Linked DNA regions of Homo sapiens: region 1 is linked to region 2. The links come from fine-mapping of genetic effects on gene expression. A gene starts in region 2. The other region holds a variant in brackets. All regions are shown on one strand. Distances are between the middles of the regions. Region 1 overlaps BRAF (B-Raf proto-oncogene, serine/threonine kinase). Region 2 holds the start of TAS2R4 (taste 2 receptor member 4).

Region 1 (15,910 bases), 880 kb before region 2:
ATTAAAAATGGAGGAGTGATGTATTCCCAGGGTAGAGAACACAACAGATTTGGTGAACGAGCTTTCTGAGACAAGATGTCTGAGAAAAAAGTTATGCCTGCTTAGGCTTATTCTCCCTGCTGTTCCCCATAACATTCTTTTTTTTTTTTTTTGAGACAGAGTCTTGCTCTGTCACCCAGGCTGGAGTGCAGTGGCGCGATCTCAGCTCACTGCAAGCTCTGCCCCCAGGGTTCACACCATTCTCCTGCCTCAGCCTCCTGAGTAGCTAGGGCTACAGGCGCCCGCCACCATGCCTGGCTAATTTTTTGTATTTTCAGTGGAGACGGGGTTTCACCATGTTAGCCAGGATGGTCTCGATCTCTTGACCTCGTGATCTGCCCACCTCGGCCTCCCAAAGTGCTGTGATTACAGGTGTGAGCCACTGTGCCCAGCCCCCCATAACATTCTTAAGCAAAGAGCAGGCTCAAATAGAAGTACTCTACTCAAAGACAACAAGGATGAGTAATAAAAAGAAACAATCCAGCAAAGGGTCTATGAGGAGAAACGTTAACAACCCCACCCGCCACACCACCAATAAAACAGGGAGTGGGGGATGAGAGAAGAAACATAATAGGCAAAGACAGATAAACACCAGAAGTTAGTCAAGGAAACAAAAGAAGTCTCTGATATATCCCCATCTATCACTATCAAATGCATTTTAGGGGAAAAAAATGACTGAAAAAACAAAATTGAAGAACAGATGAAATGGGAGATGAGGCAGGAGGCAGTGGCTCACTCCTGTAATCCCAGCACTTTGGGAGGCCAAGGCGAATTTGAGACCAGCCTGGTCAACATGATGAAACCCTGCCTCTACAAAAAAATGCAAAAAATTAGCCAGGTGTGGTAGCACATGTCTGTAGTCCCAGCTAATTGAGAGGCCGAGATGGGAGGATGGCTTGAGCCCAGGAGGCAGAGGTTGCAGTGAGCCAAGATCACAACACTGCACTCCAGCCTGAGTGAGAGACCCAGACCCTGTCTCAAAAAAAAGAAATAGGAAATGAAAAGTGAGTTAGCAGGGTTCAAGAAAGAAATGGAAGGTAATAAAAAGACCACTTCAGAAATGAAGGCCACGGTGGAAACAGAAAGAAATGGCTGAAGAAGAAAAAAGGAAGCCATTCTTGGCAGAAAAAACAGAACTACTTGATAGGAAAATCAAGCTGATGAAAAGATAAATAAAACAGAATTAGAAATCAAGAAGTCATGGTTTTAAAGAATTAAAGGTGAATATTAATCCCATTCAAACATGTAACTCTGAGACTTAAGGATAAAGTAAAAAATAAATGCATTTTTTTCAATGACAAGGTTTATATCTCATATGAAGAGATGGAAAAAAATTTTTTTAATGGTAGCTGGGGAAAGGGAGGTATAAGTGTACTGATTTTCTTACCTTTATTAGCAAGGAGTTAAAATAGTCCTGATTATTTTCACAAATCAAGAAATGGAGGCTTACAGATATTAAATCTATGAAGGTAGTAAGAGAATAAGATTTATAAAAAATCATCAAAAACTATTAGATGGGAAACACACACATACCCATAAGAGACAAAGCCCCCAAAGAAAAATATAATTAATAATGTGGAAGAACTGCCTTATCAACAAAATATAAATGAGATAAGCTCATCTATTAAAAAAATAAAAAAAGAAACTCAGCTCACAAACCAAAGCCCTGAACAAATGCTGTATATAACATCCACATCTAAAACTCACTCAGAAAAGTTGAAAGTCAAAGAATGGGCCCAGTGGTTACTTAAAGCCTAATGAACTTACTTTCGAGAAACATTTTCTTTGGTCTGATATAAAAACTGGCCAAAATCACAGAAAACTCTAGAAAACGAATCAGCTCTTGATACCAAAACCATGGAACAGCTCAGAGAGGTATAGACTGAGCTCACTTGTAAACACAGTCGTAAAATCCCTAAATAAAAACCTGAATTAGGCAAACCTAATTCAACAATCAATTAAAAGAATATACAATAAAATGTATCCAGTGACACAAGAGTTGCTTACTCAAAACTAGGAAGTCTACCAATACAATTACTTACCTAAATAGATCAATGTAGGAAAAAAACATGATCACCTCAATAAATGTACGAAAAAAATCTAACAAAATTCAACAACCATTTAGGATTTTTAAAAATGCCCAACTGTCAGCAAACTAGAAATGGAAGAAACATTCTTAAACTTCATATAGGGTATCTATAAAAAGTCTGTAAGTCACCAAGCATAACAGAAGCATTCTCACTAAAGACAGGAGAAACATTCGTCATTTCTTTGTGTTGGGAATATTCAATATCCTCCTCCTAGCTATATGAAACTATATATTATTAACTATAGTCACCCTATACTACTACAGAACACTAGAACTTATTCCTCCTATCTAGCTGTAATTTTGTATCCATGAATAAATCTCCCCAGAGCTTCCACTCTACCCCTACTATTCCCAGCCCGAGTATCCTCTGTTATACTTTTTACTTCTATGAAATCAACTCTTTTTAGCTTCCACATAAGAGTGAGAACATGCAGGGTTTAACTTTCTTTTGCTGGCTTATTTCACTTAACGTGATGTCCTCCAGTTCCAATCATGTTGCTGCAAATGACAGGATTTTTCCTTTTTACGGCTGAATAGCATTCCATCGGATGCTATACAACCACATTGTCTTTACCCAATCTTCTGTTGTTGAACTGATTCCATATCTTGGCTACTGTGAATAGTGTGCTGCAGTAAACATGGGGATGCAAATGTCTCTTCGACGTACTGACTTCCCTTCCTTTGGGTAAACGGCCAGTAGTGGGATTGCTAGATCACAGGAACCTCCATACTGATACAGTGTCTGTACTAGTTTACATTCCCACCAAGAGCGTCCAAGAGTTCTCTTTCCTCTGTATCTTCACCAGCATTTTTAATTTTTTGTCTTTTTTATAACAGCCACCCTAACTGGGATGAGACAATACCTCACTGTGGTTTTGATTTGCATTTCCCAAGTCTTCTACAGTTTTATAGCAGCCATCCTACCTGGGGCCAGATGATACCACACTGTGGTTTCACCTTGTAGTTTTGGGTCTTACAGGTAGGTCTTTGATCCATTTTGAGTTGATTTTTGTATAGGGTGAGAGGTGGGGGTCTAGTTTCATTCTTCTGTATATGAATATCCAGTAAAAAAATATATTTTTTTCTAAACATCTCATTCACAACAGCACAAAAAGATTCTCGCAAATAATACCAATCCTCCACATCCAAAAGGATGAAAACATTATGTAGAAAACTATAAACCTTTTAAGGAAAAAAAAACAGAGCTGGGAGTAGTGGCTCACACCTGTAATCCCAACACGTTGGGAGGCTGAGGCGGGTGGATCACCTGAGGTCAAGAGTTTGAGACCAGCCTGGCCAACATGGTGAAATCCTGTCTCTACTAAAAATAGAAACACATGGCCCAGGCGCGGTGGCTCACGTCTGTAATCCCAGCACTTTGGGAGGCCGAGGCAGGTGGATCACCTGAGGTCAGGAGTTCGAGACCAGCCTGACCAATATGGTGAAACTCCGTCTCTACTGAAAATACAAAAATAAGCCGGGCATGGTGGTGTGCACCTATAGTCCCAGCTACTCGGAAGGCTGAGAGGAGAACTGCTTGAACATGGGAGGCAGAGACTGCAATAAGCCAAGATTGTGCCACTGTGCTCCAGCCTGGGTGACAGAGCGAGACTCCATCTCAAAAAAAAAAAAAAAAAAAGGGGTGGGGGGGGAAGAGACCTATAAACAAATGAAGATAAAAACCATGTTCATGAATTGGAAAACTCAGTATCATAATAAATCTCTAATATATATGTCCCTACATTAACATATAAACTTAATGCAATCACAATGAAAATCCCAATAGTACTTTTTACAGAATTTGACAACCTAATTCTTTTTTTTTTTTTTTAACCAAATACCTAGACTTAGAGGACATTGACAATCTAATTCTTCTAATGGTCACGTGGAAGAGTGAATGAGCATATGTTTGCCGCAAATAAACAAAGAGAAGAGACTGGCATTACCAAAACCAAAGATATAAAGTAGTAATGTGGACAAACAGGTTATAGACAAACAGGTTAAGAAGTAGCCCAGAAATCGGTCCATGGGAATCTGGTAGAAATGAGAGGTTGCTTTACAAATAAGTGAGAAAAAGACTGTGCACATATGTACAAATGGTGTTGGGAAAATAACATCCCCCAAGACATCTTCATATAACAAATACTAGACTGCTTAAATACCTAAACAAAATTTTTAAAATTTTCAATTTATCAGAAGACAATATAGAGAATATGCTTTTAACTCTGGATAGGAAAGATTTCTTTTTTCTTTTTTTTTTTTTTTTTTTTTGAGACAGAGTCTTGCTCTGTCGCCAGGCTGGAGTGCAGTGGCACAATCTCAGCTCATGCAACCTCTGCCTCCCGGGTTCAAGCAATTCTCCTGCCTCAGGCTATCGAGTATCTGGGACTACAGGCACACACCACCACGTCCAGCTAATTTTTGTATTTTTAGTAGAGATGGGGTTTCACCATGTTTCATCCATGCCAGGATGGTCTCAATCTCTTGACCTCATGATCTGCTCACCTTGGCCTCCCAAAGTGCTGGGATGACAGGTGTGAGCCACCGCGCCCAGCCAGGAAAGATTTCTTAAAAAAATCAAAATCAAAATCAAAATAAATAAATAAATGAAAAGACTGCTAAATCTGACCACATAAACAGTAACAACAACATATGTCTTTATAAGGAAAGGCTAGGGCAGGAACAGTGTCTCACGTCTGTAATCCCAGCACTTTGGGAGGCCAAGGTGGGAGAATCACTTGAAGCCAGGAGTCGAGACCAGCCTGGGCAACACAGCAAGACTCCATCTCTACAAATTTTTTCTTTTTCAAATTAGTTGGGCACAGTGGTGTGCATTTGTCCCAGTTACTTAGGCTGAGGCTAGAAGACTGCTTGAGCCCAGGAGGCTGCAGTGAGCTATGATCACACTACTGCACTCCAGCCTGGGTCTCAAAAGAGTGGGAGGCTTGCCTCTTAAAAAAATAAATAAATAAAAATACAAATAAAAAAGGACTAGAAGGAAATATTTGACATGATGGATAAAGAAGACTATCCATAGCCTAGGCCTCAATAGAGTGGGAGGCCTGCCTCTTAAAAAAGAAATAAAAATAAATAAAAATACAAATAAAAAAGGACTAGAAGGAAATATTTGACATATGATGGATAAAGAAGACTATCCATAACAGAATACCTAAAAATAAGTTCTAAAAACAAATAGCATAATCTACAAATGGCATGTCTATAAACAATTTAAGAAAAAACCCAAAGGCTAACATATGAAAACATACTCAACCTCACTAGTAATCAGAGATGAAAATTAAATGAGATAAATTTTCCCTTTATTATAAAGCTATGTAGAGAAGTTTGCAAAACATCGTTCCATTAAAGCATAACTGTAAAGCAAACCCCACAACCCAAGGTAAGAAATAGCATTGCCAATTATCTTAAAAGTCTCCCATTTGTCCTTAATCACATCCACTTTCTCTCCTCCCTGAGGTAGTCACTATCACTCACTTTTATCATCATTATTCCCTTGATTTTTCTTATAATTCTAGTATCTCTACTTATAATTCTAGTACCTATATTTGTATTCCTAAACAATACAGTTAACTGCATTTGTTTTTAAACTGTTTACGAATAGAATCATGTTGCACTTAATCTTTTGTGACTTGGTTCTAAGGTATGACTAATGTATTTGTGAGATTCATACATATTGATGCAGGCAGGAGCTGTTTGTAGTGTGGTTTTTTTCCTTAGCTATTTGAACTAGTTTTTTGTTCCATAAGTAAACACACAATGATATCTACTGCACTACTGAGGATACTTGAACTTTTTTTCTATCTTGGGGTTAATATGAATAATACTGTTATGAGCAATCTTATATATATGCTTCCTACTTCATATATTCACACATTTCTCTATGTCTAAAGCAATGGCTGACTCTCAAAGTATGATTCCTGGACAAGCAGCACCAACATCCCACCCCCCCACCCCTCAGCCCACTCCCGGCAGGAACTTGTTAAAAATGCAAAGCAAACTATCAGGCTCCACCCAATTCCTACTTAATCAGAAACTCTAAGGGTAGCCCCAACAGCTGGGTTTAACAAGCCCTCCAGATGACTTTGATGCATACTCAAGAACCATTAGTCTAGGGCAAACGCCTAAGAGTGAGTGGTATTGCTGGTTATAGGATATCCTATTATTTTCCAAAGGATTTTTCCCCCCAATTTACATTCCCATCCATCAGTGGAAGACAGTTCAGACTGCTTCATAGCCTCACCAACATTTAATATTGTCAGATTTTTTCATTTCTGCCAATCTATATGAAATGGTCTCTCATTGTGGTTTTAATTTCTATTTCCCTAATTGTTAACTAGATTAAGGGTCATTTCATATGTTTATTAATCATTTAAATTTTTTTTTAATTCAAATGCCTGCTCAGGATTTTTTGCCCTTTTTCCAATTTGGTGTTCTGTCTTTGTCTTAGAAATCTATAGGAATTTTTTATGTATATTTTTCATACCAGTTCATTCTTTACATGTTGTAGTAGGTAGCCTCTAAACTGGCTCCCAATGATCCTCACCCTCCTGGTGGTGCCTTGTACAAACTCCCCTTGAATGTAAGCTGGAGTTATTGCCTTGCTTCTAACAAAAAGAATATGGCAGAAGTGATGGGGTGCCACTTCCAAGACTAAAATACTGTGGTTTCCATCTTGGGTGTTTTCTCTTACTCCCTTCTAGAAAGCCAGCTCTGAGGCCTGCTACATCCACATGAGGGAGCACAAAGCAGTCAAGCCTTCAAATGACTGCAGCCATTGACTGATTACAGCCTCAAGGCCCTAAGCCAGAAACATCCAATTAAGCCACTCTCAGTTTCCTGACCCACAGAACTGTGAGAGAAATGTTATTTCAAACTGCTAAGTCTTCGGTAATTACACAACAATAGATAACTAATAGTGTGTGTTATAAGTATCTTCTATTCCTTGCCTTGCCTTTTGAGTGTCTTAATGGGGCTTAATGAAAAAAGTTTCTATTTTCAATGTAGTCAAATTTGTCCATTTTTTATGGCTAGTTTTTTGAGTCTTAAGAAATTCTTCTCTGCCTTAAATAATGTCCCTTTATTTTTCTAAAAGCTTTCAGGGTTTCCCCTTTTGTATTGAATCTTTAACCTACAAGAAATTGATTTTTATGCATAACAGATGGGGAAGTCTAGCTTCATTTATTTAATATGGTAGGCATTGTTCCAGCAAGTGTATCCTTTCCCAACTAATCTGCCACAAGAGCAGGTGTCCCTCCACCTACCCATATGTAAGAATATAAAATTCATCCATATTATTTAGTATTACCTGCCATTTTGTTATTCATCTCCTCTTTCTGTTGTTTTCTGTTTGCTTGTTTGTTTGTTTTTAAGACTGAGTCTTGCTCTGTTGCCCAGGCTAGAATGCAATGGCACAATCTCAGCTCACCACAACCTTCACCTCCCGGATTCAAGTGATTCTTGGGCCTCAACCTCCCGAGTACCTGGGATTACAGGCGTGCACCATCACAGCCAGCTAATTTTGGTATTTTTAGTAGAGACGGGGTTTCACCATGTTGGCCAGGCTGGTCTCGAACTCCTGGCCTCAAGTGATCCAACCGCCTTGGCCTCCCAAAGTGCTGAGATTACAGCCATGAGCCACTGCACCTGGGTCCCTTTTCCTTTTATAAGTCCCTCAGACGCTCCACAGGCTGGGCCTAAAAACCCATGCCTGTGAGACCCTCAAGGTCATCCTCCCTCTCTGCTCAGTTGGGTAACTGCTCTTTGGACAGCACTCAGCAGTAGATTCTCCTCTCCTTTTCTAACAAAGCCATAGTCCAACTGACATAATATTAAAGATCTATTATAAGCAAAGTGTGTCTATTTCTAAGCTTCCTATGTTAAAAGAAATTAATAGAAACTAATTAAAGTTTGTATGAAAAAATATGATCAAGAAAAATTGTAAATACAAATATGAGATAATAAAATTAGTGTTGTAAGT[T/C]TGTTTGTTGGTAGTCCCAGTACTTAACCTGTATTTCAGGAAGTGTTCTATTCAAAACCCTAGATACCACTACAAGTGGATCTGAATGTGAGCTTTGGGTGGGAGCCAGATCTCACATTCACAAAGGTAATAACCAGGATGAGCAGTGCCTACCATAGAGCATTAAAAATTTGCCGAGTGGAAAAAGGAATTAAAGAAGTCTTCCTACCTTATTGTTTTTAAAGTATATTTTGGCTATTCTTGCCTCTTTAAAGCTTCCACAGAAATTGTTGAATCAGGTTGTTAGGTTCCATAGAAAAACCTACAGGAATTTGCATTTGGATTTCAATAAATCCACTATCAATTTGAGAAATACTAACATTTTTAACATACTCAGTCTTCCAATCCACACTCAGTACAGGGTATGTACCATTTATTTAGGTGGTCTGTCTCTAAATAAGGTTTAATTACTCTTCTTTATAAAGATTTTGTATATCTGAAGTATTTAAAATTCAGTTTAAGTATCTCCTTTCCTAGGAAATCTGTCTTCCATCCCCTAAAAGCATATTGAATTGTGCTCCTTTTCTGTGATTCTTCTGCATCTGGGGCACACTTTCATCACAGTACACTGTCCTTAATTCTTTATTTATCTACTTCTACCACTTAACTGTAAGCTCCTTGAAGACAAACTATCATTCATTTCTATATCCCAGTGCCTAGCATACAACTCAGCACAAAGGTGCTAAATATTTATTTTTTATGCTTAAAGGAATGAGTAAATTTAACCAATGACTGTGAAGTATAAACTGTACAGGCATGCTTCATCATATTGTGCTTTGCTTTACTGCTCTTAGCGGATAATGGTTTTTGTTTGTTTTTTACAAACTGAAGGTTGGTGGCAACCCAGCATCGAGCAAATCTGTTGGCACCATTTTTCCAACAGCATATGCTCACTTCATGTCTCTGTCACATTTCAGTAATTCTCATAGTATTTCAAACTTCTGCATTATTATGCTGTCTATTTTAGTGTTCTATGATCTTCGATGTTACTATTGTAATTCTTTTGGGGTGCCACGAACCACACCCATATAAGGCAGTGAACTTCTTCAGTAAATGTTGTGTGTGTTCTCACTGCTCCACTGACCAGCTACTGCCCTAACCCCTTCTTGGGCCTCCTATTCCCTGAGATTTCAATATTGAAATTAGGCCAATTAAAAACCCTACAATGACTTCTAAGTGTTCAAGTGAAACCAAGAGTCACATGTCTCTCTCTTGAAATCAAAAGCTAGAAATGATTAAGCTTAGTGAAGAAGGCATGTTGAAAGGCAGGCCTCTTGTACCAAACAGCCAGATTGTAAATGCAAAGGCAGAGTTTTTGAAGGAAACTACAAGCACTACTCCAGTGAATACATGAATGATAAGAAAGCAAAACAGGCCGGGCACTACGGCTCATGCCTATAATCCCAGCATTTTCAGAGGCCAAGGTGGGAGGATTGCTTGAGGCCAGGAGTTTGAGACCAGCCTAGCCAACACAGTGAGACCCTCTAAGAATTAAAAGAAAAATAGTTTAAGAAAAGCAAGCAAGCAAAACAACCTAGTTGCTGATATAAAGAAAGTTTTAGTGATCTGGATAGAAGATCAAACCAGCCACAACATTTCCCTAAGTCAATGGTTGGCTTCAAAGCTTCAAAGGACAGGATGACTTTTTTTTTTTTTTTTTTTTTGAGATGGAGTTTCGCTCTTTTTGCCTAGGCTGGAGTACAATGGCATGATCTCGGCTCACCGCAACCTCTGCCTCCCGGGTTCAAGCGATTCTCCTGCCTCAGCCTCCTGAGTACCTGGGATTACAGGCATGTGCCACCATGCCTGGCTAATTTTGTATTTTTTTAGTAGAGACAGGGTTTCTCCATGTTGGCCAGGCTGGTCTTGAACTCCCGGCCTCAGGTGATCCGCCCACCTCGGCCTCCCAAAGTGCTGGGATTACAGGCATGAGCCACCACGCCTGGCCTAGGACACGATGACTCTTATTAGAGGCTAATGCAGCTGGTGACTTTAAGTTGAAGCCAATGCTCATTTATCATTCCAAAAATCCTAGGGCCTTTGGAATTCTGCAAAATTTACTGTCTGTGCTCTGTAAATGGAACAATGAAGCCTGGATGACAGCATATTCTTTTACAACATAGTTTGCTGAATATTTTAAGCCCACTGTTGAGACCCACCGCTCAGAAAAAAAGATTCCTTCTAACACATTACTACTCATTGACAATGTGCCTGGTCACCCAAGAGCTCTGATGGAGAGCTACAAGAAGATGAACGTTTTCTCACCTGCTAACACATAAATCTTGCAACCCATGGATCAAGAAGTAATTGTGACTTTCAACATTCCTTATTTAAGAAGTACCTTTCATTGGGCTATAGCCGCCATAGATATCGTTATTACTCTGATGGATCTGGGCAACATTAATTGAAAGCCTTCTGCAAAGAATTCACCTTTCTCGATGCCATAAAGAACATTTGTAATTCATGGGAGGAGGTAAAACTGGCAACATTAACAGGAGTTTGGAAGAAGTTGATTCTAACCCTCATGGATGACTTTGAGTTCAAAACTTCAATGGAGGAAGGAACTGTAGGTGTAGTAGAAGCAGCAGAAGAACTACATTTAGGAGTGGAACCTAAAGATGTGACTGAATTGCTACAATATCATGATGAAATTTGAACAAATGGGAAGTTACTTCTTATGGATGAGTAAAAAAAGTGGTTTCTTGACATGAACTCTACTCTTGCTGAAGATGCTGTGAGCAAACACTGTTAAAATGACAGCAAAGGATTTAGAATATTACATAGAATTAGTTGATGAAGCACTGGCAGATCTGAGAGGACTGACTCTAATTTTAAAAGCAGTTCTACTGTGGTTCAAATGCTACCAGAAAGCATCGCCTGGTACAGAGAAATCTTTTGTGAAAAGAAGTCAACTGATGTCGCAAACCTCACTGTTGTCTTAAGAAACTGGCATAGCCATCCTATCCTTCAGTAACCACCAGGGATGAACCAGCAGCCATCAACATCGAGGCAAGACCATCCACAGCAAAACAATTATGACTCATTGAAAGATCAAATGACTGTGAATTTCCCAGTAGATCTAGAAGTTTAATGAAACTCCAGCTCAGTTATTTTTTTTTTTTCCAATCAAGAATCTTTCATAGGTGGTAGGTATTTCTTTTTTGGGGGAGGCAGGGAGGGGTGTCAAGAAACTTCGTATCTAAAGACATAACATTTGATTCTCTCACTTTCAATGGTCTAAGATATATCAAGTTGTGGAATTTGATCAATCAAAAATTTTTAATCATCTAGTTCAAGGTATTTTCTAACTTCCATTGTGATTTCTTCTTTGATGCATGGATTATTATTTTTTTTAGAGGGAGTCTCGCTCTCTCAGACTGGAGTGCAATGGCACGATCTCGGCTCACTGCAACCTCTGCCTCCTGGGTTCAAGCAATTCTTCTGTCTCAGCCTCCCAAGTAGCTGGGACTACAGGCATGCACCACCACGCCCAGCTAATTTTTATATTTTTAGTAGAGACGGGGTTTCACCATGTTGGCCAGGCTGGTCTCGAACTCCAGCCCTCGTGATCCGCCTGCCTCGGCCTCCCAAAGTGCTGGGATTACAGGTGTGAGCCACTGCGCCTGACCAGATTATTTCCAAGTATTAATAGTTGCTCAATTTCTAACATGAAGCTTTAAAAATTACCCTATTGATAGAGATCTTTAATGAAAATGGACAGAAAAAAATGCTTTTTTGGTTTCAATCCTTTGAAATTTGTTGAAACTTGTTTTACAACATTATTACTCAGTCAATTTTCCCCCCAAAATCCTACATGCTTGAAAAGAATGTGTAGCCTGCCACTGTTGGGTAGAATGGGTTCTATACACCCACTGGGTTAAACTTGTTCATTGTGTTATACAAATATTTTATATCCTAACTAACCTGTCTGCTTCTTATACCAGTTACTTAAAGAGCTGTTTAAAAATACCCCATTAAGACTGAGAAATCTGTCTATTTCTTGTAGTTTTGTTTAACTTTTGCTATAAATATTCTAAAGCTATATTTCAGGTTATACTATATTACTAAGGCTATTAAATCTTCACAGTGAATTGGTCATTTTATCATTTGAGGTGACTCTTCTGCCAATAATGCTTTCTGCCTTACTGTCCACCTTTGATATTAACTGTACCATACTGTCTGCTAGAATATGCATGGTATGTCTTATTGTGATGATTACTTTTGATCTTCTTTATTCTTAGGTTTCAGATATGTTCCTTATAAACCCCATATAACTGAATTTTTTTGGAAATTCAGTGTAACAATCTTTGGCTTTTAACTGAATAATTTAATCCATTTTGTATTTAATGTAGCTGGTGATATGTTTAGATTTAAATCTACCCATCTTTGTGCTACTTGTCCTACTGGTTCTTTCTTTTCTTCACTTCTTCAGGATTAATTTTTATTAATCATTTGTTATCTTCTGTTGGTTGAGAAGTTAAAAGTCTGGTTTCTACATTTTTAGAAGATAACTTAGAAATTAAAACATAGGCCGGGCGCGGTGGCTCACGCCTGTAATCCCAGCACTTTGGGAGGCCGAGGCGGGCGGATCACGAGGTCAGGAGATCGAGACCATCCCGGCTAAAACGGTGAAACCCCGTCTCTACTAAAAATACAAAAAATTAGCCGGGCGTAGTGGCGGGCGCCTGTAGTCCCAGCTACTTGGGAGGCTGAGGCAGGAGAATGGCGTGAACCCGGGAGGCGGAGCTTGCAGTGAGCCGAGATCCCGCCACTGCACTCCAGCCTGGGCAACAGAGCGAGACTCCGTCTCAAAAAAAAAAAAAAAAAAAAAGAAATTAAAACATATAATTTATCAAGGTCAAGTCAATTAATACTTTCTACCTTTCTCTCTGACAATACAAAGGTCTTAGAACCCGGCCTTCGCCTGTCATATATTTTTTTTGAGACAGGGTCTCAGTCTGTTGCCCAGGCTGGTGTGCAGTGGCACGACCAAGGATCACTGCAGCCTCAACCTCCTGGGCTCAAGCGATCCTCTCACCTCAGCCACCTGAGTAGCTGGGGCTATGGGCATGCACCACCACACCCAGCTAATTTTTATATTATTTGTAGAGACGGGATTTCACTATGTTGCCCAGGCTGGTCTCAAATTCCTGGGCTCAGGCAATCTGCCCGCCTCAGCCTCTCAAAGTACCATGCCCAGCTTCTTGTCACATATTTTAATTAAGGTCTTACTAGTACTTTATACAGTCAACGTTTCTTTTAATACATCCACATATTTGCCACTCTCTTTGCTCTTTATTCCATTTTGCACCTCAGACTTTTATCTAGAATCTTTCTGCCTTAAGTATTAATGTATACTTCATAATTTCCTTTAGAAAGAGCTGATGGAGTTTGTTCAACTAAGTATTTTACCCTCATTGTAGAGGGATAATTCTTTGCTAATTACAGAATTCTAGATTGGCAGTTATTTTGAGAATATATGTAATTTTCTATTGAAAAGTCAACCATCAGTCCATAGTTGCTTCTTTGAAAAACATCTTTTTTTCTCTCTGGCTACTTTCAAGACTTTTCTCCTTGTATCTGGGTTTATGCAGTTTTCCTATGATTTGTCTGGGTGTAGATTTCTATTTATATTGCTAGAAATTCATTAACCTTCTTAAATCAATCAACTGGTTTCTCATTGGATCTATAAAATTTTCAGCCAGAAATATCTTTTGAAATATTACTTCTGTACCATTCTTTCTCCTCTCTTTCCAGAGCTCTGATTAAAGAAATTAGATCTTATTCTGTCTTCCATGTCTCTTTACCTCTCTTCAATATTTTCTTTTTTATTCTGTGCTACACTCTAAACAGTTTCTTCTGCCTTGTCTCCCAGGCAATGAACTCTTTCTTCAGCTAGGCATAATCTCTTAGGTATATTTGGTAAAGTGTTCACTTCTGGAATTTCTATTTGGTTTTTTGCAAATCTATTAAGTTGGGTTTTTCCCCCCCTTTTCTTTTTTGAGACAGAGTCTTGCACTGCCACCCAGGCTGGAGTGCAGTGGTGCGATCTCAGCTCACTGCAAGCTCCACCTCCCAGTTTCACGCCATTCTCCTGCCTCAGCCTCCCGAATAGCTGGGACTACAGGTGCCTGCCACCATGCCCAGCTAATTTTTTGTACTTTTAGTAGAGGTGGGGTTTCACTGTGTTAGCCAGGATGGTCTCAATCTCCTGACCTCGTGATCTGTCGGCCTCAGCCTCCCAAAGTGCTGGGATTACAGGCATAAGCCACCGTGCCCAGCCATTTTTTTTCCTTTATTTGAGACAGTTTCTCATTCTGTTGCCTAGGCTGGAGTGCAGTGTGGCACAATCATACATCACTGCAGCCTCAAACTCCTGGGCTCAAGCGGGTCCCAAATTCCTGGCCTCAAGTGACCCTCCCACCTCAGTCTCCCAAAGTATTGGGATTACAGGCATGAACCAAAGTAACTTTTTTTTTTTTTTGAGACACAGTTTCACTCTTATAGGCCAGGCTGGAGTGCAGTGGTGCCATCTCGGCTCACTACAATCTCCACCTCCCAGGTTCAAGTGATTCTCCCACCTCAGCCTCCTGAGCAGCTGGGATTACAGGTGCACCTCACCACACGTGGCTAATCTTTGTATTTTTAGTAGAGACAAAGTTTCACCATGTTGGCCAGGCTGGTCTTGAACTCCTGACCTCAGGTGATCCGCCTGCCTTGGCCTCCCAAAGTGCTGGGATTACAGGCGTGAGCCACCGTGCCTGGCCCTAAGTCACTTTATAAGAGTCTTTTGTTCTTCAAGTTTGTCTCCAATTCTTTAAATTTAACAGTGATTGTTTTAAATCCATCTGATATTTGCAACATTTGAAGATTTTATAGATCTGTTTCTGCTCTCTTCTTATTCACAGTGCCAATTGGATGCATGCTTGGTTATTATTTTTCCTCTGTAAAAACGTAATTTTAGGTATATATACATAAAGAAACCCACACAAATTTTAATTACATTGCTGAAAGAATTCTACATATATATTACATATTATATATCTCTCAGGTAATTTTGCTTGCTAATTTTTTTATTTTTACTATGTTTGATTACTTGTGACAATGTACTGTTCATTGTCCTTGAAAAATTACTGGAAGCAATTCCCTAGAATGAAAGGCCTTTCTCCACACGTGATTTGCCTTTCCATCTGCCAGGCCATGGAAGTAATACTAGTCTGAAACCAGTAACCATGATAAATGGCTGGAGGGTCATTTATCATGGAGGGTCCCTGGACCACCCAGACAGAGCAAACCCTCAAGGCAAATCACTGTGAAGGCTAAAACTGTGGTCACAACTTGAAAGGTTTATTTTTCTTAATTTCCTTTTCCTCCTCCTGCTCCATTCAACCTTCCCTGCAATCACATGGATATGGGAGTGTGTAGACAGTTCAGTTGTTTCACCCTTAACCTAACGATAGAGTCACTGGGGTCCCATCTAAAACTGAGGTTATTCTTTTTGACTGTCACTTTAGATGAACTCTAGGACTTGATTTCTGTCCTCTTCACCCCAATGGTCCACCAAAACCAAAGCCCAACTTGTACAGATTGGCAACTGCCTTTAGGGCAAAAGCTACTTCATCCACTTATTTATTTGGATTCTTGTTTATTCCTAGAATTTGGCCTGGCAGCTCCCCACTATCTTTTCAGCTCTGCAACTGCTCTACGTTTTCTTTTTTTTTTTTTTTTTTTAATACTGTTTCCAAGAA
Region 2 (15,910 bases):
TCCACAATGGTTGAACTGGTTTACAGTCCCACCAACAGTGTAAAAGTGTTCCTATTTCTCCACATCCTCTCCAGCACCTGTTGTTTCCTGACTTTTTAATGATCGCCATTCTAAATGGTGTGAGATGGTATCTCATTGTGGTTTTGATTTGCATTTCTCTGATGGCCAGTGATGATGAGCATTTTTTCATGTGTCTTTTGGCTGCATAAATGTCTTCTTTTGAGAAGTGTCTGTTCATATCCTTCGCCCACTTGTTGATGTGGTTGTTTTTTTCTTGTAAATTTGTTTGAGTTCATTGTAGATTCTGGATATTAGCCCTTTGTCAGATGAGTCGATTGCAAAACTTTTCTCCCATTCTGTATGTTGCCTGTTCACTCTGATGGTAGTTTCTTTTGCTGTGCAGAAGCTCTTTAGTTTAATTAGATCCCATTTGTCAATTTTGGCTTTTGTTGCCATTGCTTTTGGTGTTTTAGACATGAAGTCCTTGCCCGTGCTTATGTCCTGAATGGTATTGCCTAGGTTTTCTTCTAGGGTTTTTATGGTTTTAGATCTAACATTTAAGTCTTTAATCCATCTTGAATTAATTTTTGTATAAGGTGTAAGGAAGGGATCCAGTTTCAGCTTTCTACATATGGCTAGCCAGTTTTCCCAGCACCATTTATTCAATAGGGAATCCTTTCTCCATTTCTTGTTTTTGTCAGGTTTGTCAAAGATCAGATGGTTGCAGATATGCAGTATTATTTCTGAGGGCTCTGTTCTGTTCCATTGGTCTATATCTCTGTTTTGGTACCAGTACCATGCTGTTTTTGTTACTGTAGCCTTGTAGTATAGTTTGAAGTCAGGTAGCGTGATGCCTCTGGCTTTGTTCTTTTGGCTTAGGATTGACTTGGCAATGCGGGCTCTTTTTTGGTTCCATATGAACTTTAAAGTAGTTTTTTCCAATTCTGTGAAGAAAGTCATTGGTAGCTTGATGGGGATGGCATTGAATCTATAAATTACCTTGGGTAGTATGGCCATTTTCACCATATTGATACTTCCTATCCATGAGCATGGAATGTTCTTCCATTTGTTATTTCATTGAGCAGTGGTTTGTAGTTCTCCTTGAAGAGGTCCTTCATGTCCTTTGTAAGTTGGATTCCTAGGTATTTTATCCTCTTTGAAGCAATTGTGAATGGGAGTTCACTCATGATTTGGCTCTCTGTCTGTTATTGGTATATAAGAATGCTTGTGATTTTTGCACATTGATTTTGTATGCTGAGACTTGGCTGAAGTTGCCTATCAGCTTAAGGAGATTTTGGGCTTAGACGATGGGGTTTTCTAGATATACAATCATGTCATCTGCAAACAGGGACAATTTGACTTCCTCTTTTCCTAATTGAATACCCTTTATTTCCTTCTCCTGCCTGATTGCCCTGGCCAGAACTTCCAACACTATGTTGAATAGGAGTGGTGAGAGAGGGCATCCCTGTCTTGTGCCACTTTTCAAAGGGAAATGCTTCCAGTTTTTGCCCATTCAGTATGATATGAGCTGTGGGTTTGTCATAGATAGCTCTTATTACTTTGAGATACGTCCCATCAATACCTAATTTATTGAGCGTTTTTAGCTTGAAGCGTTGTTGAATTTTGTCAAAGGCCTTTTCTGCATCTATTGAGATAATCATGTGGTTTTTGTCATTGGTTCTGTTTATATGCTGGATTACGTTTATTGACTTTCATATGTCGAACCAGCCTTGCATCCCAGGGATGAAGCCTGCTTGATCATGGTGGATAAGCTTTTTGATGTGCTGCTGGATTCAGTTTGCCAGTATTTAATTGAGGATTTTTGCATCAATGTTCATCAAGGATATTTGTCTAAAATTCTCTTTTTTGGTTGTGTCTCTGCCCAGCTTTGGTATCAGAATGATGCTGGCCTCATAAAATGAGTTAGGGAGGATTCCCTCTTTTTCTATTGATTGGAATAGTTTCAGAAGGAATGGTACCAGCTCCTCCTTGTACCTCTGGTAGAATTCGGCTGTGAATCCATCTGGTCCTGGACTTTTTTTGGTTGGTAAGCTATTAATTATTGCCTCAATTTCAGAGCCTGTTATTGGTCTATTCAGAGATTCAACTTCTTCCTGGTTTAGTCTTGGGAGGGTGTATGTGTCAAGGAATTTATCCATTTCTTCTAGATTTTCTAGTTTATTTGCGTAGAGGTGTTTATAGTATTCTCTGATGGTAGTTTGTATTTCTGTGGGATTGGTGGTGATATCCCCTTTATCATTTTTTATTGTGTCTATTTGATTCTTCTCTCTTTTCTTCTTTATTAGTCTTGCTAGCAGTCTATCAATTTTGTTGATCTTTTCAAAAAACCAGCTCCTGGATTCATTGATTTTTTGAAGGGTTTTTTTGTGTCTATTTCCTTCAGTTCTGCTCTGATCTTAGTTATTTCTTGCCTTCTGCTAGCTTTTGAATGTGTTTGCTCTTGCTTCTCTAGTTCTTTTAATGTGATGTTAGGGTGTTAATTTTAGATCTTTCCTGCTTTCTCCTGTGGGCATTTAGTGCTATAAATTTCCCTCTACACACTGCTTTGAATGTGTCCCAGAGATTCTGGTATGTTGTGTCTTTGTTCTCGTTGGTTTCAAAGAACATCTTTATTTCTGCCATCATTTCGTTATGTACCCAGTAGTCATTCAGGAGCAGGTTGTTCAGTTTCCATGTAGTTGAGTGGTTTTGGGTGAGTTTCTTAATCCTGAGTTCTAGTTTGATTGCACTGTGGTCTGGGAGACAGTTTCTTATAATTTCTTTTCTTCTGCATTTGCTGAGGAGTGCTTTACTTCCAACTATATGGTCAATTTTGGAATAGGTGTGGTGTGGTGCTGAAAAGAGTGTATATTCTGTTGATTTGGGGTGGAGAGTTCTGTAGATGTCTATTAGGTCTGCTTGGTGCAGAGCTGAGTTCAATTCCTGGATATCCTTGTTAACTTTCTGTCTCGTTGATCTGTCTAATGTTGACAGTGGGGTGTTAAAGTCTCCCATTATTATTGTATGGGAGTCTCAGTCTCTTTGTAGGTCTCTGAGGACTTGCCTTATGAATCTGGGTGCTCCTGTATTGGGTGCATATATATTTAGGATAGTTAGCTCTTCTTGTTGAATTGATCCCTTTACCATTATGTAATGGCCTTCTTTGTCTGTTTTGATCTTTGTTGGTTTAAAGTCCATTTTATCAGAGACTAGGATTGCAACCCCTGCCTTTTTTGTTTTCCATTTGCTTGGCAGATCTTCCTCCATCCCTTTATTTTGAGCCTATGTGTGTCTCTGCACATGAGATGGGTTTCCTGAATACAGCACACTGATGGGTCTTGACTCTTTATCCAGTTTGCCAGTCTGTGTGTTTTAATTGGAGCATTTAGCCCATTTACATTTAAGGTTAATATTGTTATGTGTGAATTTGATCCTGTCATTATGATGTTAGCTGGTTATTTTGCTCGTTAGTTGATGCAGTTGCTTCCTAGCCTTCATGGTCTTTACAATTTGGCATGGTTTTGCAGTGGCTGGTACTGGTTGTTCCTTTCCATGTTTAGTGCTTCCTTTAGGAGCTCTTTTAGCGCAGGCCTGGTGGTGACAAAATCTCTCAGCAATTGCTTGTCTGTAAAGGATTTTATTTCTCCTTCACCTATGAAGCTTAGTTTGGCTGGATATGAAATTCTGGGTTGAAAATTCTTTTCTTTAAGAATGTTGAATATTGGCCCCCACTCTCTTCTGGCTTGTAGAGTTTCTGCCGAGAGATCAGCTGTTAGTCTGATGGGCTTCCATTTGTGGGTAACCTGACCTTTCTCTCTGGCTGCCCTTAACATTTTTTCCTTCATTTCAACTTTGGTGAATCTGACAATTATGTGTCTTGGAGTTGCTCTTCTCGAGGAGTATCTTTGTGGCGTTCTCTGTATTTCCTGAATGTGAATGTTGGCCTGCCTTGCTAGATTGGGGAAGTTCTCCTGGAGAATATCCTGCAGAGTGTTTTCCAACTTGGTTCCATTCTCCCTGTCACTTTCAGGTACACCAATCAGACATAGATTTGGTCTTTTCACATAGTCCCATATTTCTTGGAGGCTTTGTTTGTTTCTTTTTATTCTTTTTTCTCTAAACTTCTCTTCTCGCTTCATTTCATTCATTTGATCTTCCATCACTGATACCCTTTCTTCCAGTTGATCGAATCGGCTACTGAGGCTTGTGCATTTGTCACGTAGTTCTTGTGCCTTGGTTTTCAGCTCCATCAGGTCCTTTAAGGACTTCTCTGCATTGGTTATTCTAGTTAGCCATTCGTCTAATTTTTGTTCAAGGTTTTTAACTTCTTTGCCATGGGTTCGAACTTCCTCCTTTAGCTCGGAGTAGTTTGATCATCTGAAGGCTTCTTCTCTCAACTCGTCAAAGTCATTCTCCGTCCAGCTTTGTTCCATTGCTGGTGAGGTGCTGCATTCCTTTGGAGGAGGAGAGGCACTCTGAGTTTTAGAGTTTCCAGTTTTTCTGCTCTGTTTCTTCACCATCTTTGTGGTTTTATCTACCTTTGGTCTTTGATGATGGTGACGTACAGATGGGGTTTTGGTGTGGATGTCCTTTCTGTTTGTCAGTTTTCCTTCTAACAGTCAGGACCCTCAGCTACAGGTCTGTTGGAGTTTGCTGGAGGTCCACTCCAGACCCTGTTTGCCTGGATATCAGCATCAGAGGCTGCTGAACAGTGGATATTGGTGAACAGCAAATGTTGCTGCCTGATCATTCCTCTGGAAGTTTTGTCTCAGAGGAGTACCCAGCCGTGTGAGGTGTCAGTCTGCCCCTACTGGGGGGTGCCTCCTAATTAGGCTACTCAGGGGTCAGGGACCCACTTGAAGAGGCAGTCTGTCCGTTCTCAGATCTCCAGCTGCATGCTGGGAGAACCACTACTCTCTTCAAAGCTGTCAGACAGGGACATTTAAGTCTGCAGAGGTTTCTGCTGCCTTTTGTTTGGCTATGCCCTGCCCCTAGAGGTGGAGTCTACAGAGGCAGGCAGGCCTCCTTGAGCTGCAGTGGGCTCCACCCAGTTCTAGCTTCCCAGCCACTTTGTTTACCTACCCAAGCCTCGGCAATGGTGGGTGACCCTCCCCCAGCCTCACTGCTGCCTTGCAGTTTGATCTCAGACTGCTGTGCTAGCAATGAGTGAGGCTCTGTGGGCAAAGGACCCTCCGAGCCAGGCGCGGGATATAATCTCCTGGTGTGCCGTTTGCTAAGACTGTTGGAAAAGCACAGTATTGGAGTGGGAGTGACCTGATATTCCAGGTGCCGTCTGTCACCCCTTTCTTTGACTAGGAAAGGGGATCCCCTGACCCCTTGCACTTCCCGGGTGAGGCGATGCCTCGCCCTGCTTCGGCTCACATTCGGTGCGCTGCACCCACTGTCCTGCACCCACTGTCTGACACTCCCCAGTGAGATGAACCTGGTACCTCAGTTGGAAATGCAGAAATCACCCGTCTTCTGCGTCACTCATGCTGGGAGCTGTAGACTGGAGCTGTTCCTATTCGGCCATGTTGGCTCCACCTGAAAAAATTTCAAACTTCTAAATTCCTGTTTCTTCATGACTGACCTCATTCTTCAGAGCCATCATCAAATAAGTTAAGTGCCATTCATTTGCTTTGACTATTTGCCCTAAAGCCTTTCTTACAGACCTGTCAAGAAGCAGAGTTTGGATCCATGACTGCAGTGCCTGCTGGTTGGTCTTCTTGGGCTCTAGTAAATAATCAAACTTATAAGACTATCTTAGGCTACTGTGGTACCAGCCTACTCAGATGGATATAGTTGAGGGACCCGATTTACCAGCAGGGCAGTGTCAGGCCTTCCTCTTTTGCAGAGTTTTTGGTGCAGGCCATACAGTTCAGGTACAGTAATAAGAGACCCACAGTAGGGTAAGGGTGGGAGCTGCTGCAAATTAAAAGCTTCGTGTCCCAAAAGATCCAATTTATTTTGTGGTAATTTTGTAGACAAAGCTTCTAGGGTTGAGTCAAGGTACAGGTACATGGGAAGGAAGCCCAATGCATGTAGACTCCATAAGATACTTATTACAGTTCACTTATAGTTCCTTCCAGTCAAGATGCAATTTTCCAATCAAGAGTCTTTTTTTTTTTTGTTCTAGAAACATAGTTGATGTTCTTACCCTTATCATATAAGGATAAGATTATCCTTATCATCCTTATCATCATGATAAGGAAAACAGCTAGGAAGTTTAACCATAGGTCAAATTCTCATGCATAGGGAGAAAGGGTTCTGCTAACACTTTTCCTATACTGACCCTTGTGGAAATAACTTCTAACTGAATGAGCTCATTCATTGATTGTGCTAGCCAACCTTATCACATCTTAATTATAGCACTTCCTCCTACAGAGAACCCAACAATTTGGTATAGTACATTCTAGATAGAGTTTGTTACTATCTAATTCTGGGATTCCTGCTCTTTTGGCCACATTTATCTGTTATGGCTTACTCTATATCATTTATTCTATTTAAATGTGATGTTAGTAATATTTCAACTTCACCACTTTAATGCAGCCATCTATGGATAAGTAATTGGAAATCTGTGCTATAATTTTCCTTTTAGTCATAGTCTTCCTGGCTCATTCTGTTTGCCTGCTTACCTGATGTGGGCATGCCTCTATCAGTGCCTGTTAGTTTTGAATAAAAAGCTTCTGTAAGCACCTGGGCACCAGGTCAGAGAATTTCTCCAGGCTAGGCTTCCTGTCATCTGTCTTAAAGGGCCTCATGAATGTATTCCCCTCTTCTGGACCTGATTATTATTAAATCTTAGCTCCTTTTTCTTGTCTGTTTCTATTTGGACTTGGCAGTAGGACTTTGTGCTGTACCTTGATGCTACTTTGGTAACATCTGTGGCTGCATCCAGGATTGCACCTTGGTTTCATTCAGCTGCTAGAGAAGATAAGAGATGCCATACTCTTACATTCACCTATGGGCCTCCATAATATCATTTGCCAGGGATATTTTGCCATTTCCCATCTGAGCAAGTACAGAGAAATCCAGCAATGAGATGCCTAGCTGTTTGGCTCACAAAACTACAACTAATGCATTACTGTGTATCTCATTCCAGGGTACCTGGATTGACAGTTAAATGCCTAAGAGAAAATAGCCACATATGATCTAAACATAAACCCAGATTTATAAAGGAAACACCTACAAGGGCTGACTTAATTTTTTCTAAGGAAAACCAGAACATAGCAAATGGTTATGGCACAAATCTATGTATGTAGATAGAGAAGGCAAAGCAAAGGGCATCAGAAAGAATGGGATTAATTGAGAAAGGTTTTCTCAAGGAGGTATTGGGTCTTTGAACTTGATCTATTAGATCACTGTAAATCGCTATAGGTGAATCACTGAGGTTGAAAGAGTGGCATTGGCATGGCCAATTGGTGAAACTTGTTGTGGCAGCAACAGATTAGAGGGGAGAGAGAAATTGGATTCTGGTCATCCATGAATATGTGGCTAGGAGGTGGGTGGGTAGGAGTGAGGAATTAGGATTTCCACCATATTCTGGCATTTTTATGAAGAAAAACTTTACCGTAAAACATTGACAGAAACATTGCTGGACTCAAGCTCTCTGGTTTGGATTCTAAGTTTTTGGAGCCTGCTGTGACTCTTCCCTCTCGCCCTCCTGCTCTTGGAGGAGTGGACTCCCAGCATCACCTAGGCTTGCTGTAATTAGGCATTTCTAAGGAGAACAGGATACTAATGAAGAAATAGTAATGTAATCCTTGGAAGATTTGCATCTCAGTAAAATCAGGTGGCCCTTGATCATGAATGGCTCATTTGCCATGCTGGGAAAAATTAAAAAGGAGATGTCCTTCCTGGCTGGATACTGGTGTCTGCTTATACATTTTGGTATTTCTTCTGCCTCCACTATCAGCACCACAACTGCTGAATCCTCAATGAGTAAAGATGCTTCGGTTATTCTATTTCTCTGCTATTATTGCCTCAGTTATTTTAAATTTTGTAGGAATCATTATGAATCTGTTTATTACAGTGGTCAATTGCAAAACTTGGGTCAAAAGCCATAGAATCTCCTCTTCTGATAGGATTCTGTTCAGCCTGGGCATCACCAGGTTTCTTATGCTGGGACTATTTCTGGTGAACACCATCTACTTCGTCTCTTCAAATACGGAAAGGTCAGTCTACCTGTCTGCTTTTTTTGTGTTGTGTTTCATGTTTTTGGACTCGAGCAGTGTCTGGTTTGTGACCTTGCTCAATATCTTGTACTGTGTGAAGATTACTAACTTCCAACACTCAGTGTTTCTCCTGCTGAAGCGGAATATCTCCCCAAAGATCCCCAGGCTGCTGCTGGCCTGTGTGCTGATTTCTGCTTTCACCACTTGCCTGTACATCACGCTTAGCCAGGCATCACCTTTTCCTGAACTTGTGACTACGAGAAATAACACATCATTTAATATCAGTGAGGGCATCTTGTCTTTAGTGGTTTCTTTGGTCTTGAGCTCATCTCTCCAGTTCATCATTAATGTGACTTCTGCTTCCTTGCTAATACACTCCTTGAGGAGACATATACAGAAGATGCAGAAAAATGCCACTGGTTTCTGGAATCCCCAGACGGAAGCTCATGTAGGTGCTATGAAGCTGATGGTCTATTTCCTCATCCTCTACATTCCATATTCAGTTGCTACCCTGGTCCAGTATCTCCCCTTTTATGCAGGGATGGATATGGGGACCAAATCCATTTGTCTGATTTTTGCCACCCTTTACTCTCCAGGACATTCTGTTCTCATTATTATCACACATCCTAAACTGAAAACAACAGCAAAGAAGATTCTTTGTTTCAAAAAATAGTGGAATTTCAGTAAACAATACCTAGATTTACCTGATGGTTTGGGGGCAAGATTTTCTGTTTGCAGTTTTCCCAGTGATCTGGGGAATTCAGTTTTGTGATTGCTGATCTGACATCATAGGCTTTTGAGTGCCTGAATTTCAGTTCATTCTGTAATTTTTTTTTTTTGGTATGTAAGTATTTTAAAATAAGGCACATTCTGTAAGAAACTTTTTTGAGGCATTATTTGTCATGTATTTTGCATGGCCATTGAATCCATGTATAATGGAAATCATCACATTGTTTCATTGTCTATTGAAGTATAATGGGAAATTCTTCCAAATTAGAGAACACATTGGGGTGCACGTGATGAGTTAGATATTTGTGGTTTAGCTGAGGAGCCCTGAGTAAGGGCTCAGCAGTGGATAGGTGGTCACTGGGAGCCACTGGACTGACCGAAAGCAGAGGAAGGGGGTTCAGTGCAAAGAGAAAAGGAAAAAAGGAAGGTTTCAGAGAGAAAAGAAGGAAAGAGAAAGGTGAAGAGAAATAGGCGTACACTGGGCCAGGCGCGGTGGCTCATGCTTGTAATCCCAGCTCTTTGGGAGGCCGAGGCAGGTGAATCGTGAGGTCAGGAGATCGAGACCATCCTGGCTAACACGGTGAAACCCTGTCTCTACTAAAAATACAAAAAAATTAGCTGGGCGTGGTGGCGGGCACCTGTAGTCCCAGCTACTCGGGAGGCTGAGGCAGGAGAATGGCTTCAACCCAGGAGGCGGAGCTTGCAGTGAGATGAGATCGCGCCACTGCACTCCAGTCTGGGCGACAGAGCAAGACTCTGTCTCAAAAAAAGAAATAGACGTACACTCTGGGACAAGACAGAAAAAGTATCCTCACACTTGCTGGGTAATAGTAACTGTGCTATTCCTAGCAAGAAACCCTAAGGTTTCTAGGCTTGTTCTGGAAAAGAGGATATTGCCAGAGTTGGTAAGTAGAGGAAAGTGATTAGTATTTAAGAAACTGAATCAAGAATGGTTCCAAAAATCTTAAAATCCAGGGAAACCAGCTTAAGGTCAAAGGCAAGTGCTAGATAATGAAATTAACACCATATGAGTACAAATTTACAAAATACTGTACTTCACCATAGGCTATGGAACTCAGTGGAAAGCCAAAAAAGCACTGGACAGGTGGTGGGAGTGCTTGACTTGTGGTGAATTTATTTCATCTGCTTATACATTTGTACACAGCACAGTTCTTCTCCAGAATGTTGTTTCTGTGGCTGGGACCATTGGACTGTGGCTCCAAAAGAACAACAGTCTGAAGATGGGATGTTGACAAGTTTTGGAATGTCAATTGGGGAATCATAATTTGTATTTATTTAGGTTTTTTTTGGTGTTCATAAAATGCTTATGTAATATTTACATATGTCAAATAAATCTTAAAATTTTATAAATTACATGACTTTTCTCATTCTGGCCACCAGAATCTTGACTGCAATATTCAGTAAAAATTACCCAAGCCAATATTTTGTGCTATGAAACCTGGAGGTATTCATCATGTTAAATCCTAAGAGAGATAAAAGGATTACTGAGAGTGATTAAATGCATACTATGTCTTAAGAACTCTAAATGAGTGGCAGAAACCCTCATTGGTCCCTCAGTATCTGTTCTTTCTCCTCTCTTCCATAGTAATCAAATCATTAGCTGTTCAGAATTTTGGCAGCAAATTCCATTATTGCCATGTATGTGAGCAGAAAAGATGTATATAATTTCTGGGTGGTACTTCGGAGCAGTCCTACCTTCCCTTCTTTAATCTTTTCTTTGTTACTCCCTCCATGAGCTGGAATGCTGACATCATGATTGTCTATCTTGGACAATGCAGATGAGGTGAATGCTTGGGATAGTGAAGTAATTCTCCATCCTAGAGCTGGCTCCATGGTTCTTCACACTGTGGACTTGTAACACCAGCTCTGGACTGCTCAAGCCTGAACTCCAGGACTGTTGATGAGAAATCAGTGTCTCCATTCTTTCAGGTGCTGGAGTTTTGGTCTCTGTTACCTTAGTCAAATAACCTATGCTATACCTTAAATATACACAATAATATATATCTTTATGATGAAATAGTATGTATTTACCATCTTATTAGTCAAAGAACCTTTTTATATGACCTACTAAGTGAAATTGAAATAAAACCTGTACATGTGGTATAATACCATTTTTTTTGGTAAAAATGTGTACATATGAAGAAAAGTCTAAAAGGAAATATATAAAAATGTAAACAGTAATTATTTTAGGTGGGAGGAATCAATAAATTTTTTTGTGTATTTCAAGTTTTCTATAATGAACATTTTTATATAATCAAAAAATATTTTTAAATATATAATGTATATATGGTCTATCTATCTATCTATCTATCTATCTATCTATCTATCTATCTATCCATCCACCAACCCACTCACCTCCCTCCCTCCCTCCCTCCCTCCCTACTTACCTAAAAGACAGAGAGGGAGTTCTGAGGTCAACATCGAGTTTGTCCTCGCTAAGAAAGGTAAGTGAATTGTCTTGCTTTGTCTGGATTCTTTTTATTGTATTGGCAAAGTTCTGCCAATTTGTTTCCTGTTTGTCCTACACTGTCTTCAATTTTCCCCTCTCTGGGTTGGATGTGTTGTCTTTGTGTTAGGACTGTTTTTGCTGTTTGAAGAAAGTCTTCAGTCTTTGCTTAGGCACTTGCCCAAAGTCTCCCTTGGGTACAGTTTTTAAGAATGCTGTATGTTTAGAGTTTTGCTGGTTCTGATATGCTCTGCTAAATACCCACCACTAAGTACTTATTAACCAAGGATTTAAAACAATTTGGATTTTGGTTTGATTTTTTCAAGACACATAACTTAGAGGCTCTCTAATAAAAATAATATCCCGCATACCCCTCCCTTTCCTGCAGTAGGCAGAGCATAGAGGGAGGTTAAAAACTCTTTGTTAAGAAGTCACTTTCTGAAGTGGAGGGCAGGTGTCAGGACAGTGTACAACCTCATGAAACACCCATCGTGGTAACCAGAACTCAGGGTCATTGCCATTTAACTTTTAACTGCTACATGCCCAATACTGTATGAGCTACATTTCCACGTTATTATTTTAGTTGGTCATAACCTCTTTGGTAAGATAGCTATTATTGTCTCCATTATATAGTTGAGAAAATTAAGGCCCAAATAAGCCATATGAATGGTTCATAATAGCAGAACTAGGAAGGAATAGATCCAGAGCTCCCAGTGTAGTCTCTGAAAGTATGAAATTATTGTGGGTGCTTAGTTTCCTTAGCTGAAATGAATGTCATGGTGTCACATAGACTCTGGGCTTTTAGGCCTTGAGATTTATATGAGATATGTTTTTAAGTGAAAAAGTAGTAACATTAAAGAAGAAAAAATTATTAGATTTCTTTTGAATGTTGCTACTTGGGAAGGAATAGGCCAACAGAAATGTAATGAAAAGGTAGATACAATTTCTATAAGAACTAAATGAAATTCTTAAAAATTTCAAGGATTTTAAGAGCTTGTTTATATCACTTAAGTTTCACTTAAACATTTCTAAACATGTCTGGCTTTAGGTTTCCCTGATCATTGCTACCTGCATTCTGTTAATGAACCATTTTCAATTTTTTAAAAAAGAGAAAAGATTACTGGAAAGGAGTCTTTTAAAGCATGAACGGAATGTAACTTTTAAGGTAGCATCAAAAGCTACAGTCTTCAGGTGAAACTGAAGCTTACTGAAGGCATTTAAAATAAATTTTCCAATAATATAATTTTTTTTTACAAGTTAAAGCTGGAGATGGATCATCTACTCTAGTTCACTGGTTCTCAAAGAGCGCTGGGAGGGTGAGAATATGTCAGAGTCCATTGGGAATTTTTATTTTTCACATTTTATATACAGTCTGTGTGGGTTTCTCAGCTCTATTTAAAATATACGTGTCTTCATTCATTCTGGGTGTGGGAGTGGAAGGGGGAAGTGGAATTTGACAAAACTCCCTAGGGATTTGGATATTGTGGTCTAAGGGAAGGCACAGGTATAAATTTATTTCTCCTTCTAAGAGAAGAGCCAAGGCCAGTTTTACTCCATGAGGAAAAAAGTGTGAAAATAAATTCCATGTTTGTATAATAATTTGCCTGGCATAGAAATTAACAAGAGAGTGATACGGGTTAATGGGGGTGGGAGAAGAGGAGAGGAAAGGGGAGACATGAGGGTAAGGTCAACAGCAGGAGGAGGGGTGCAGTCTGTACACCCTCCTCCCCATGCCTGGCAGAGGTGTGAGGTCAACATCACTTCACCACGGTATGATTGTCCTCTGTGTTGTCTATTTGGATATATGGGGTCTGGGAAATGGGGTGACTGTAACTCTGCCTTGAGTCAGCAGGAAGGAGCCAGGAGCCCTGGGCAAATGACTGAGTGTGTGCACAGCTAGCTTGCAAATGAGATATCTAAACACAGGTGCATACTTGATTGGCCTGACAACATTTCTGACCTATTTTAAATATGGAAAAATTATTTGTCTCAATTTTGCTGCTTTCACAGATGGGACAATGACTGTGGTTATAATGATCTGAACTCCAGGTACCTCAAGAGAAGAAATAGCTAAACATTGATATTACTCAGAAAAGACCTCTCCTAACTCCTACCCACCCCTTTACATCTTTGACTTCTATGTGTTTTAAAGGTCTGGATTAATCAGTCTCTCATCTTTATTCATGCTTTCCAGACATTCTGGAATTGTGCAGAACTGGACACCTGTGTCTAGAATCAGTAGCTCAGTTCATCCTGGATTTGCATACTGTGAATAACAGACTTCAGGTGCTTTCTGACTTTATTGAAAGTAGTAGTTAGGGAGAGAAATCACCAGGGAAGGAAAGAAAAATAACAGTAATTAGACTATTTGGGAAGCAACAGGCTGGGTCATTCGTTTTATCATCACGATAGCTCTGTGACGTAACATTATCATCATCATTTTATAGAGGGGACACTGAAGCTCAGAGGGGTTAATTGGCTTGTCTAAGGACAAGAAGTGGTTGAGTTGGGAGCACCCCCAAATCTGTCCAACTTCAAACACATTGCCTTTCTCTGCATGGCCACAAGTGCCCCATTGATTAATACATCTAACAGAAAGCTAATCTTGAGGCCTAACAGAAAGCTATCTAACAGAAAGCTATCTAACAGAAAGCTATCTAACAGAAAGCTAATCTAACAGCTAATCTTGAGTCCTGTGTCCCATTGAGAGCTGGTACTAGCATGAACATGTGAACTCTTTGCCTTGGATGGGCAGACACCCAGAAAGCCCCGTCTGTAGCCTGTGCTGCTTGACCCTTTCCTTAGCGTGATTTTGCAATATTATGGGAACACCTCAGTGTCTTCTGGATACGCACAATTCTCATTGCTAAATGCTAAAAATGTAATTATTATATCTGAGTTTTATTTAAATTTTTAAAATGTTTTATTTCATTTTATTTTCTAATATTTTATAGAAAAGTTGCAGAATGAGTATAGAGAGTTCAAATATCATCCTCACCCAGTTTCTGCTAATATTTATATCTTACCATAACCATGGTACAGTTGCATTTAGTGTCTCTAGTCTGTGTCAGTTTCTCAGCTCTATTTAAAATTACCTTGCCAGTTTTAAAGATTACTATTCAGGCATTTTGTAGAATGTCCCTCAGTTTGGGTTTGTCTGATATTTTTCTCTGTTAGACTGAGGTAAAGTGCCCTACTCATCACGTTAGGAGTTCTGTGATATTAACATCACTGGTCACTGGTGATGTTAACCTTGATCACTCGGTGAAGGTGGTGTCTGCCAGGAACATTGTAAAGTTACTATTTTTTCCCCCATTTTCACACTTTGTTCCTTGGGAGCAAGTCATGTCCAGTACAAACTCAGAGGGAGGGAAATTATGTGCACCTCCTGGAGGGTTCCCCACATTTTGCCTGCTATAGTTAAAAATTCTCAGCCCTCCAAATTTCGTATTCATAAAAGCACACAAAAATAACTCCCTGGGCCGGGCGCGATGGCTCAGCCTGTAATCCCAGCACTTTGGGAGGCCGAGGCGGGTGGATCACGAGGTCAGGAGATCAAGACCATCCTGGCTAACACCGTGAAACCCCGTCTCTACTAAAAAATACAAAAACTTAGCTGGGCGTGGTGGCGGGCACCTGTAGTCCCAGCTACTCGGGAGGCTGAGGCAGGAGAATGGCATGAACCCGGGAGGCGGAGCTTGCAGGTGAGCCGAGATCGCGCCACTGCACTCCAGCCTGGGCGACAGAGCGAGACTCCGTCTCAAAATAAATAAATAAATAAAATAATAAAAAAATAACTCCCCCTCTTTCATCTGCAGTCCCCTCACTAGCCCGCTTTTACTCTATTCACTTTCCTGCCCTGAATAACGTTGCCGATGCTGGTCATTTTCTTCCTCGGGGTTGTGATCTTTGCTGCACACAGCAGCCAGCCTCAGTGGTGTAGTTTGTGCTTCCTCCTCCCTCCGAACGCCTAAATTGCGGCACCAAAGAGGCCGCAATGACTGGTGAGCAAGACTCCTCTTCCTCATATTTTGTGAGGAAGGAAGCTGGCAAGACTATGAATTTGTGTACATTTATAAATTGTGTTCCTGTTACACATGGTTATTAAAAACATGCTTGATCTGTTCAGTTTCTGAATATCTGAACTAATTCAGCTCATTAAGGGAATTTGTATACTTAGGTCAACAGCTTCTACAGAGGCGTTGCCTTGACGCCATCTAGTGGCAATATAGGCACAATTCTGAGAAGCATTTTAAAAAGTCTTGAGTACAGGAATACAGGTTTGCAAGAGAGATGTAGAATAGGGGATGGAAGATGGAACTGTACTGAGTCTGGTAGCAGGACAGGGTGATTTTTTGGGGGAAAGTGCCAGGTTTTGGAAACCAATGCTTGTTCTTTGTTTCATTCTTTTTAATATTCTTATTATAGACTGCTCTGTTGACGCTGAGTGTAAAGCCATAACTTGCCCCTATGAGCGTCTCTTTGGATGCTTGCATCCCGCTTGATGTTTCATCAGCTTTCTTTTCTTGGTTCAGGTACT

What was found. PIP is the estimated chance that this variant, and not a neighbour inherited with it, causes the effect.
Region 1: its variant is fine-mapped to the expression of TAS2R4 in monocytes (BLUEPRINT, PIP 0.95).

The regions. Positions count from the first base shown.
Region 1 is chr7:140,893,116-140,909,025 of GRCh38, forward strand. All of the region lies in intron 1 of BRAF (B-Raf proto-oncogene, serine/threonine kinase), which reads right to left. Among named protein-coding and RNA genes, the nearest start is that of BRAF, 24 kb to the right of the region's middle. The variant T/C (reference allele first, on the strand shown) is at 8,124.
Region 2 is chr7:141,770,542-141,786,451 of GRCh38, forward strand. TAS2R4 (taste 2 receptor member 4) reads left to right here and starts at 6,133. Exons shown (of 1, transcript NM_016944.2): 1 at 6,133-11,150. The coding sequence starts at 7,948. The coding sequence ends at 8,847.